Linked DNA regions of Homo sapiens. The protein of the gene in region 1 purifies or fractionates together with the protein of each later gene. This does not show direct contact. Each region holds a gene or a part of one and is shown on either strand. Other genes may lie near its edges.

Region 1 (3,850 bases):
AATGTATTAATATAAAGAATGGGGCAGGAGTTATCAGGAGAATTTTTCAACTTTCATAATGGGCAGGACAAAAAAACTTCCACTCATAGCTCCAGTCTAACCAGTGTATATGGAATAAGGACTCAGGCATTATACCTGGAGCCAGACAGACTTGGGTTCAAAACTGGTCAGTTGCTCACTAGCTGTGCAGCCTTGAAAAAAGATCTTCACATCTCTGTGCCCATATTAGGTAAGATTCTTTTGATAGCAAATAACAGAAACTAATTCAATGTACCTTTACCAAAAAAGGAGAATTTAGTTTAAGAAACTAGGGCTATTTAAAGCAATTCAAAGAGTTTAAAAGAGCTAGGAAGGGCTTAAGGGGAGAAGATTGAAAACCAGGTTCGGGCCAGAACCCCTAGCTTCAGGAATCTGTGGACTGTGCCTATGGATTTGGATTCCTGCCATTTTACACATGTTATCTCTCAAAACTTAGACTTTTGCTCCTCTGAGTTTCAATTCTCAGGGCAATTTAAAGAGAGAGAAACTGATAGTCCCAATTTAGTTCAGGTGTGTGTACCTGATCTAAACATTTTTGGTGAAAGGATCAGATTATAGGGCAGAAACATGGATATGGGGAGGGGCTCCAGGGGTTGGGGTATGCAATTCTTGTAGAAGAGCGGGGCTAAATAATCCAAGAGTGGTGTTCCCTTGAGAGCCTTGGGTTCTTCATCATATTATGAGAATAATTCTACTTACCTTTCAGGATGTTATTAGAGTCAAAGTAGATAAGGAAAGTGAAAACATTTTTTAAAATGTCAAAACATGCAAATGAAGAGTGTTGTATACATTCAAGTTCCACCAGCCAGACAGTCCCTGATCCAAGCAGTCAGATTCCCCTTCTAACTCTTCTTCCATGTCATATGGGCTGAAAATTCAGAAAGTCCTGGGAACAAAAAGATTCAAGGTCTCTTACAGTGGTGTTCTGGTTAACAAGCTCTACAAGATTTAAAAAAAAAAAAAAAAGCCCTAAAGCGTAGCATTTACCAACTTTGTAATTTCTGTGGTTTAAATACTGCTACCACAGTTGATTTCAATAAACTAATGGTTTCACAAAAAGCTTGCAAAATTTCTGAGTACTTAAAAATCCACAAACTGGCTTGGGCTTCAGCACATCCTGCCTGAGGGTAAGATTTCCAGGAAGTGATTAGCAGAAAAAATGGTCCTCTGGTCCAGCCCAAGCATTTCTGACAGCTCAAAGCGAGCATCTTGGAGCTGGACAACCCAAGCTGGCTCAATTAATTCCATCAGCAAAGTGCCCAGTGCTGTGCTGATCACCATGGGAAATGCAGAAGGAGTGTAAGATATGAGGCTAGAACACAGGAAATGGTGAAAACCAGGATAAAAATTGCTCAATTAAAACATATAGGGGAAGTCCAGGAAACTTTTATCACCTCTGTAGTCTGAGCAATCTTTTAGCGATCTGAGATCAGCTTCACAGAGGAGACAAAACTAGAGTTCTAGAGACCAGATTGGTAGAGCTTCTAGAGCCTCTCCACACATACAACCAAGAGGCAAGCTCTGATCTGGTCAATTCTCTGCCAATTTTTAATCTTATGGGATTTGAGTTGCATTGATTCTGCAGATGTTTCACCCTGACCAGAATGAAAAGATCTCAGAGGATTGCAGGTAAACCGGCCTTAGCCAAGGAAGGACCAGATGCTGGGACTATCTCTCATTCTCTCCGGCAGCAGTACAACAGTAATAATGGTAAAATGGCCTCTAGAATGTATGCAATACTTACACTCTTCAAAAAGCAATTATCCATGACAGGTGACGTTTTATCTTACTAACATTGCGCGATGAGGTAGAGTCAGTTTACAGATGACAGCAAGGGGGTTAACTACCTTGCCTAATGTCACTCCACTAGAGTCAAGTCCAGGACCCAGGCTGGTCTCACTCCAAAACTAGTGTTTTTGTGTCTACTTGCCTCCCTCCCTCCCTCCCTCCCTTCTTTTTCTTTTTCCTCTCTTCTCTTCCCTTCTCTCTCTCTTTCTTCCTTTCTTTCTTCTTTTTTTTTTTTTTTTGAAGGTCTTCTCCTTACCCAAGCTGGAGTGCAGTGGTATAATCATAGTTTATTGCACCCTGGAACTCCTGGGCTCCAGCAATCCTCCTACCTCAGCCTCCTGAGTAGCAGGGACTAAAAGTGCACACCACCACACCTGGCTACTTTTCTTTTCTTTTCTTTCTTTTTTTTTTTTAGAAACTGAGTCTCTCAATGTTGCCCAGGCTGGTCTCTTAACTCCTGGCTGCAAGCAATCCTCCTGCCTCAGCCTCCCAAATTGCTGAGATTACAGGTGTGAGCCGCTGCACCCGGCTGTGTTTTATCCTTTCTATCTCATAACTACTTCATTCATCCTTTCATGAGATACTTATAGAATACCTGCCATGTGGCAGGGATTGTGCTAGACATGGAGATACCAAAGTTAGCAGACCAATCTGTTTATCACAATTGATGCGGCTGGAAGTTACATGAAGTTCTTCTCTGTAGCTCTGCCAGAGTCTAGAAGGCTGGCACCTGCACTGGATGGTTGTGCAAAGGACTTTGCCACGCGCAGACAGGTACCTCTTACCTTAGGACTCTTGCTGAAGCTGAATCCGATAATTGGAAAGACAGACCAGCCAAGGTGCCCGCCATGAACCGTTGCTAGAGAAGGGTCCCTGAGCATCTCAGGCAGTTGATATACTAAGTCTGACCCCAGCAAGTCTCTGGGCTGTTCGTTCAGGCTCACACACGATCATAACCCCATTTTGTTCCCAGAGCATATGATGGACTGTGGCGCCCCCTCCAGGACGCAGCTTAGCTTCACTGCCTAGAAGCCGCTCTTGCAGTGAGTCTGTGAGGCCTCAGGAGGTCAAGGCTGCTCACTGGCTCCCTCTGTAGAACTTCTTCTTCATGACTCTGCCTCCTGGGGCATTCAGGCCCCTTCCCTGGATCCCTTTGTTCTTTGTTGGCTAAACCTTCACAGCATGAATGCCTCACTGTCTCATCTTATAACATCCTCCTCACTTTCAGACCCTGTACCCAAGCCTGTCATCAAAATTGAGAAGATAGAAGACATGGATGACAACTGTTATCTGAAACTGTCATGTGTGATACCTGGCGAGTCTGTAAACTACACCTGGTATGGGGACAAAAGGCCCTTCCCAAAGGAGCTCCAGAACAGTGTGCTTGAAACCACCCTTATGCCACATAATTACTCCAGGTGTTATACTTGCCAAGTCAGCAATTCTGTGAGCAGCAAGAATGGCACGGTCTGCCTCAGTCCACCCTGTACCCTGGGTAAGAAGGATCCCTGGGAGCTGAGGGGGGCACAGGGTAACTGGAGTTGTTTTGAACAAAGAAAGGCTGGGGGTCCTATTCAGCCTCCTTGCACAGTGTGGTGGTGAATCCCTAAGGTGTCTGGGAGAGCTGGGAGACGTGGGTTCTGCCACCAGCTCTACCACCACCTCCCAGCCAGCTTACCTCAACTTCGTGGGGGCTCAGTGTTCTCACCTGCAAAGGACGTTTGGGAGAGATCTCTGATACTCCTCTTCCCTCTCCCGCTCTAACAAAGCATAGTCCTAACATCTGAGGCCAGGGTCATCATAGAGTAGACTGAAACATCAGGGTGAGCAGGGAGAAGGAAGGGCAAGTGGGCGAGCAGCTGTCTAGAGGGGCTTCATTAGACAGCCGAAGTCAGCCAAGGAAAGAGGGACCGAGGTCATTAGACCGCCAAAGTCAGCCAGGGAAAGAGGGACTGAGGAGACGGGCCTGAGAGAGGCCGTCGAGGAGGCGTGAGAGCCTGAGCCTCAGGCGAAGCTTCTCCTC
Region 2 (3,850 bases), on another chromosome or scaffold:
CAAATTTTAAATAGATCTTTCTCATGTAGTCTGGCAAGTATTATATCAAAGATAAATACCAGTTTTAGAATAAAGCATTAATATACTCTTACATTTCAACTTAAGAGGCAAATATTAACAGTAGGATTTGTAAACTATTTATTAGACTAAAAATCAATGAATTTTTAAAAATTACAAAATGATTTATGTATGTTAGATATTTTACTGAGTGAAAAAATTCATGCTTTTTTAAATGACTTATTGTTTGGAGTAGTGATACAGTAGATTTAATTTTCCCCCTCATTAATTAAAATCATGTTTTAGCCAAGAAAGTGAACAGAATTCTTATTGGCAATTCAGTTGTTTCCCATTTTGGAGACTGACACTCTCCAGTTCTAAGTTAAATAATTGTCATGGTAAAGTAATTTCCTTGAAAAGAACGGACATTGATTCAGCCCCTGTTACTCACAAATCCTATTTGAGTCAAATTGGAAAACTATTACGTTTTTGGGAAAAAAATCAATAGGTATCAGGAAACCATTAGATCTTGTGGCCCTTGCTATATCTTGCATGAGTAATCACTGTAAACAGCTGACCGGTATTTCATTGTTGACACAGAGTGATGCTTGGGGGACCACATCTTGTCAGAGCAGGTGGACAGCTTTAGACGTTGGAATGAGTTTGATTATCCTTGTTTTTCTCCTACACTCATTCTTTTAGACAGCCCTGTCACTAACTGGGCCTGTGATGCTTTCAAAAATCAAATACTTTCCTTGCTGTCAGTTTTCTTTTTCTTGCGTTGTGGCATACTAATCAGGGTATGTGGTTTGGTACTGAACCAATTTCTGTCAAAAGCAAGTTTTAATTTATTATTTAGGAAAAATTTTTCCTAAGACCCAGGTTTTATACAGTCCTAAATAAATAGTGTGAGGAATAATTAGTAATGCCATAGAGTATATAATTTTACTTCTAGTTCTACACAGATTACAAGTAAATTTTTTTTGGGCAAGTGATTTTGGAATTATCTATGTTTTGTTTTCCTTTTCCTTTAGAGTGATAATTCACTATTTATGATTGAATGATTATCATATTAAAGAGGTGAGAAAATAAAAATAAGTCTGATGTGCACAAAGCCATACTGCTCAAATTGTTTGATAATATCTGTTAATTAAATTATTATGGCATCGGTAGAAGAATGATGTTTTGTTTATATGTGGTTAGAATTGGTCTTTTTTAAAGGAAATAACGAGAGATGGAAATGGAATGGGTATAAATAGTAAAAGGTTCTATCACTATAATTCCCTTTTGCTATAAATAGTTAAAGCTTCTATCACTATAATTTCCATAAGAAGATATATGTGTTTACCTGTTAATTTTATCAGGGCAAATTAAAACATGGATAGAATCATGTTTCTCAGTGTGAAGAAATATTTTTATTTGATGAATATTATATATTTTCAGGTGCAGTGGCTTCTATGTTTTGGGTTGATGCTGAATTAGGGAGTGATATTTACCTTGATGGTAAGTTAAAAAACAGTTTTCTTTTATCTTTCTTGGTTTTTTTTTTTGTTTTTTTTTTTTTTTTCTGAGACAGAGTCTCACTTTGTTGCCCAGACTGGAGTGCATGGAGTGCAGTGGCATGATCTCGGCTCACTGCAATCTTTACCTCCTGGGTTCAAGTGATTCTCCTGCCTCAGCCTCCCGAGTAGCTGGGACTACAGGCGTGCACCATCGTACCTGGCTAATTTTTGGATTTTTAGTAGAGACGGGGTTTCGCCATGTTGGCCTGACTGGTCTTGAACCCCTGACTTCAGGTGATCCGCCAGCCTCGGCCTCCCAAAGTGCTGGGATTACAGGCGTGAGCCACCACACCCTGCCTCTTTTGTTTTTTAGTAAAATCTTTATGGTTAAGCTTATTGTTGTTCATTCATATTATAACTTTAATTCCTTGCATTGTTGTTCTTTTCACACTTTAGTTTAATGATGAAATCTTTGTTCATATAGATTAAAAAACCCCAAACAGTGGTGGAAATCGATGTCACTCAACTTCCAATTTAGTGCTTCCACTAAGGTTTTCTTTAAAAAAAAAAATGCTTTGTAGGTTTTCTGTATCCTCTGTTGTTTGATTTATGCCCTTAATATAATGTTAGAGCCTTTTATTTTAATCCTCCAGGCAATATGAGGATCATATTTTTGCTTTTATTTTCTCTTGAAGATAAGAATTAAACACTCCTCCCTTACTTTATTTACCTGAACACTTTTGGGCAATGATATGCCTTCATTTAAAATATATTAGAAACTTTCTTAGTTAAGCGACTATGTTTTCTCCCTTTCTCTTTCCCTTTTTCACCTTTTTAAAAACCAGTCGAAATTTTCTTACTTTTTCAAAAGTAATAATCATTAAGAAATTTAAGAATTATTAAGCTGGGCCCCATCATTGAGCTCTAATATATGTGGCGGGTAACTGGTTGAATTCCTTAGCATAATTAAACTCATTCTTTTGTTATCAGCATATATTCAGAGATTGCAAAATGAATTGGTAGTTTGGAAACTTAGGCATATGTTATGTAAAACATTTATGAGCTGGATTTGGATTTGGATTTGGTGAGAGATGTTAGGAATGATACCTTAAGATGTCTCATTCTTTAGGCAATAATTTAAATCTTAAGAAAAGTCTTGATTTTGATTATGTGAAAATAAACTAGAAATAACCTGTCTTATGTACTTATCACATTTGACTATGTTATGAAATTTGACTTATATTTTGGATTGTAAGCTTTTTCAGTGCCAAGGAAATCTTATTTTCTTATTTATTTAATTTAAAATTTTTATTTGTTTTATATCTTCTCTAGTGCCTTAAAATAGTGCTAGCCACTCAGGAAATGCATTGACTTATTACTGGAATTTAATTAAATGGCAGCACTGGCAAGAGAAAAAAACAGTACATTGTTTTATTGAGTAGTATTTGTGAACTGAAATAGGTTAGTTTTAATTTTCATTCTGAAGTATGGTTGCACAAGTATTAATAAGCATTCTTTTTAAAAAGTGATTAAAATGTTTTTTCCTTTGTAGGTATCATAACTATTGTGGATTCAAAATATGGATTAAAAGTAAGTTGAAAGATTGCTATGAGTGGCTCATTATTGAGAGCTGGGAATATGGGGATTGATTGTTTAATTTTCTTTATGTTTGTATCTGAAATTTTCTTTAACAAAAACCTTTCTCAAAAAGATATCCTGAACAATAGGTGAAATTTGTGTTTTAATTATTAGTTTGTGTTAAATATTTCTTTTCTATTACTCTGAGTTTGATTTGGTGATAAAATTTGGAATTATAATTTGTAATAAGCATATGGGGTTAGGATAGAGTTTGGTATGTATAGCTCTTCACAAGGATTCAACCCCAATATTGCTAAGTTTTTCTGTTCCATAGAAGAAGCTGAGCTTGATAAAGCATCTGAGATCTTATTTTTCTTGTTAAATTACTATTAAACACACACTGGAAATGAGTTTTTAAAAAATATTGAAGACCTAGGTGATGGGTTAATAGGTGCAGGAAACCACCATGGCACCCGTTTACCTATGTAACAAACCTGCACATCGTGAGCATGTACCCTGGAACTTAAAATTTAAAAAGTACATATTGAAGAAAATCAGGATATACACATAGGATTAGTAAGAAGACTCTCTCCATTAAAAGGCATCTTGCATCGCTTCTTGGTCTTTTGGCTAAGATCAAGTGTAAAAGACATCCTGCTATGAATGTTTTTGTTAACTTCTAAGGTCCTAGAATGCATTTAAATGAGGTTTAATTTATAAAATGCATTTAGTAAGATCTTTAAAAGTATGTTGTTACATACAGTAAAATGATG

Evidence for each region. Proteins that work in one complex are often made in the same cells at the same time.
Region 2: the proteins of CD48 (region 1) and ZNG1C purify together in Homo sapiens (affinity purification with mass spectrometry; one large-scale study listed by BioGRID and IntAct). This does not show direct contact.

The regions. Positions count from the first base shown.
Region 1 is NC_000001.11:160,680,674-160,684,523, reverse strand, and holds part of CD48 (CD48 antigen isoform 1 precursor), read left to right. Parts: exon of another isoform or gene 1-1,318; intron 1,319-3,055; coding exon 3,056-3,322; coding exon of another isoform or gene 3,323-3,429; exon of another isoform or gene 3,430-3,850. UniProt on the Homo sapiens protein: Glycosylphosphatidylinositol (GPI)-anchored cell surface glycoprotein that interacts via its N-terminal immunoglobulin domain with cell surface receptors including CD244/2B4 or CD2 to regulate immune cell function and activation.
Region 2 is NC_000009.12:68,255,481-68,259,330, forward strand, and holds part of ZNG1C (zinc-regulated GTPase metalloprotein activator 1C), read left to right. Parts: intron 1-1,440; coding exon 1,441-1,500; intron 1,501-3,051; coding exon 3,052-3,089; intron 3,090-3,850.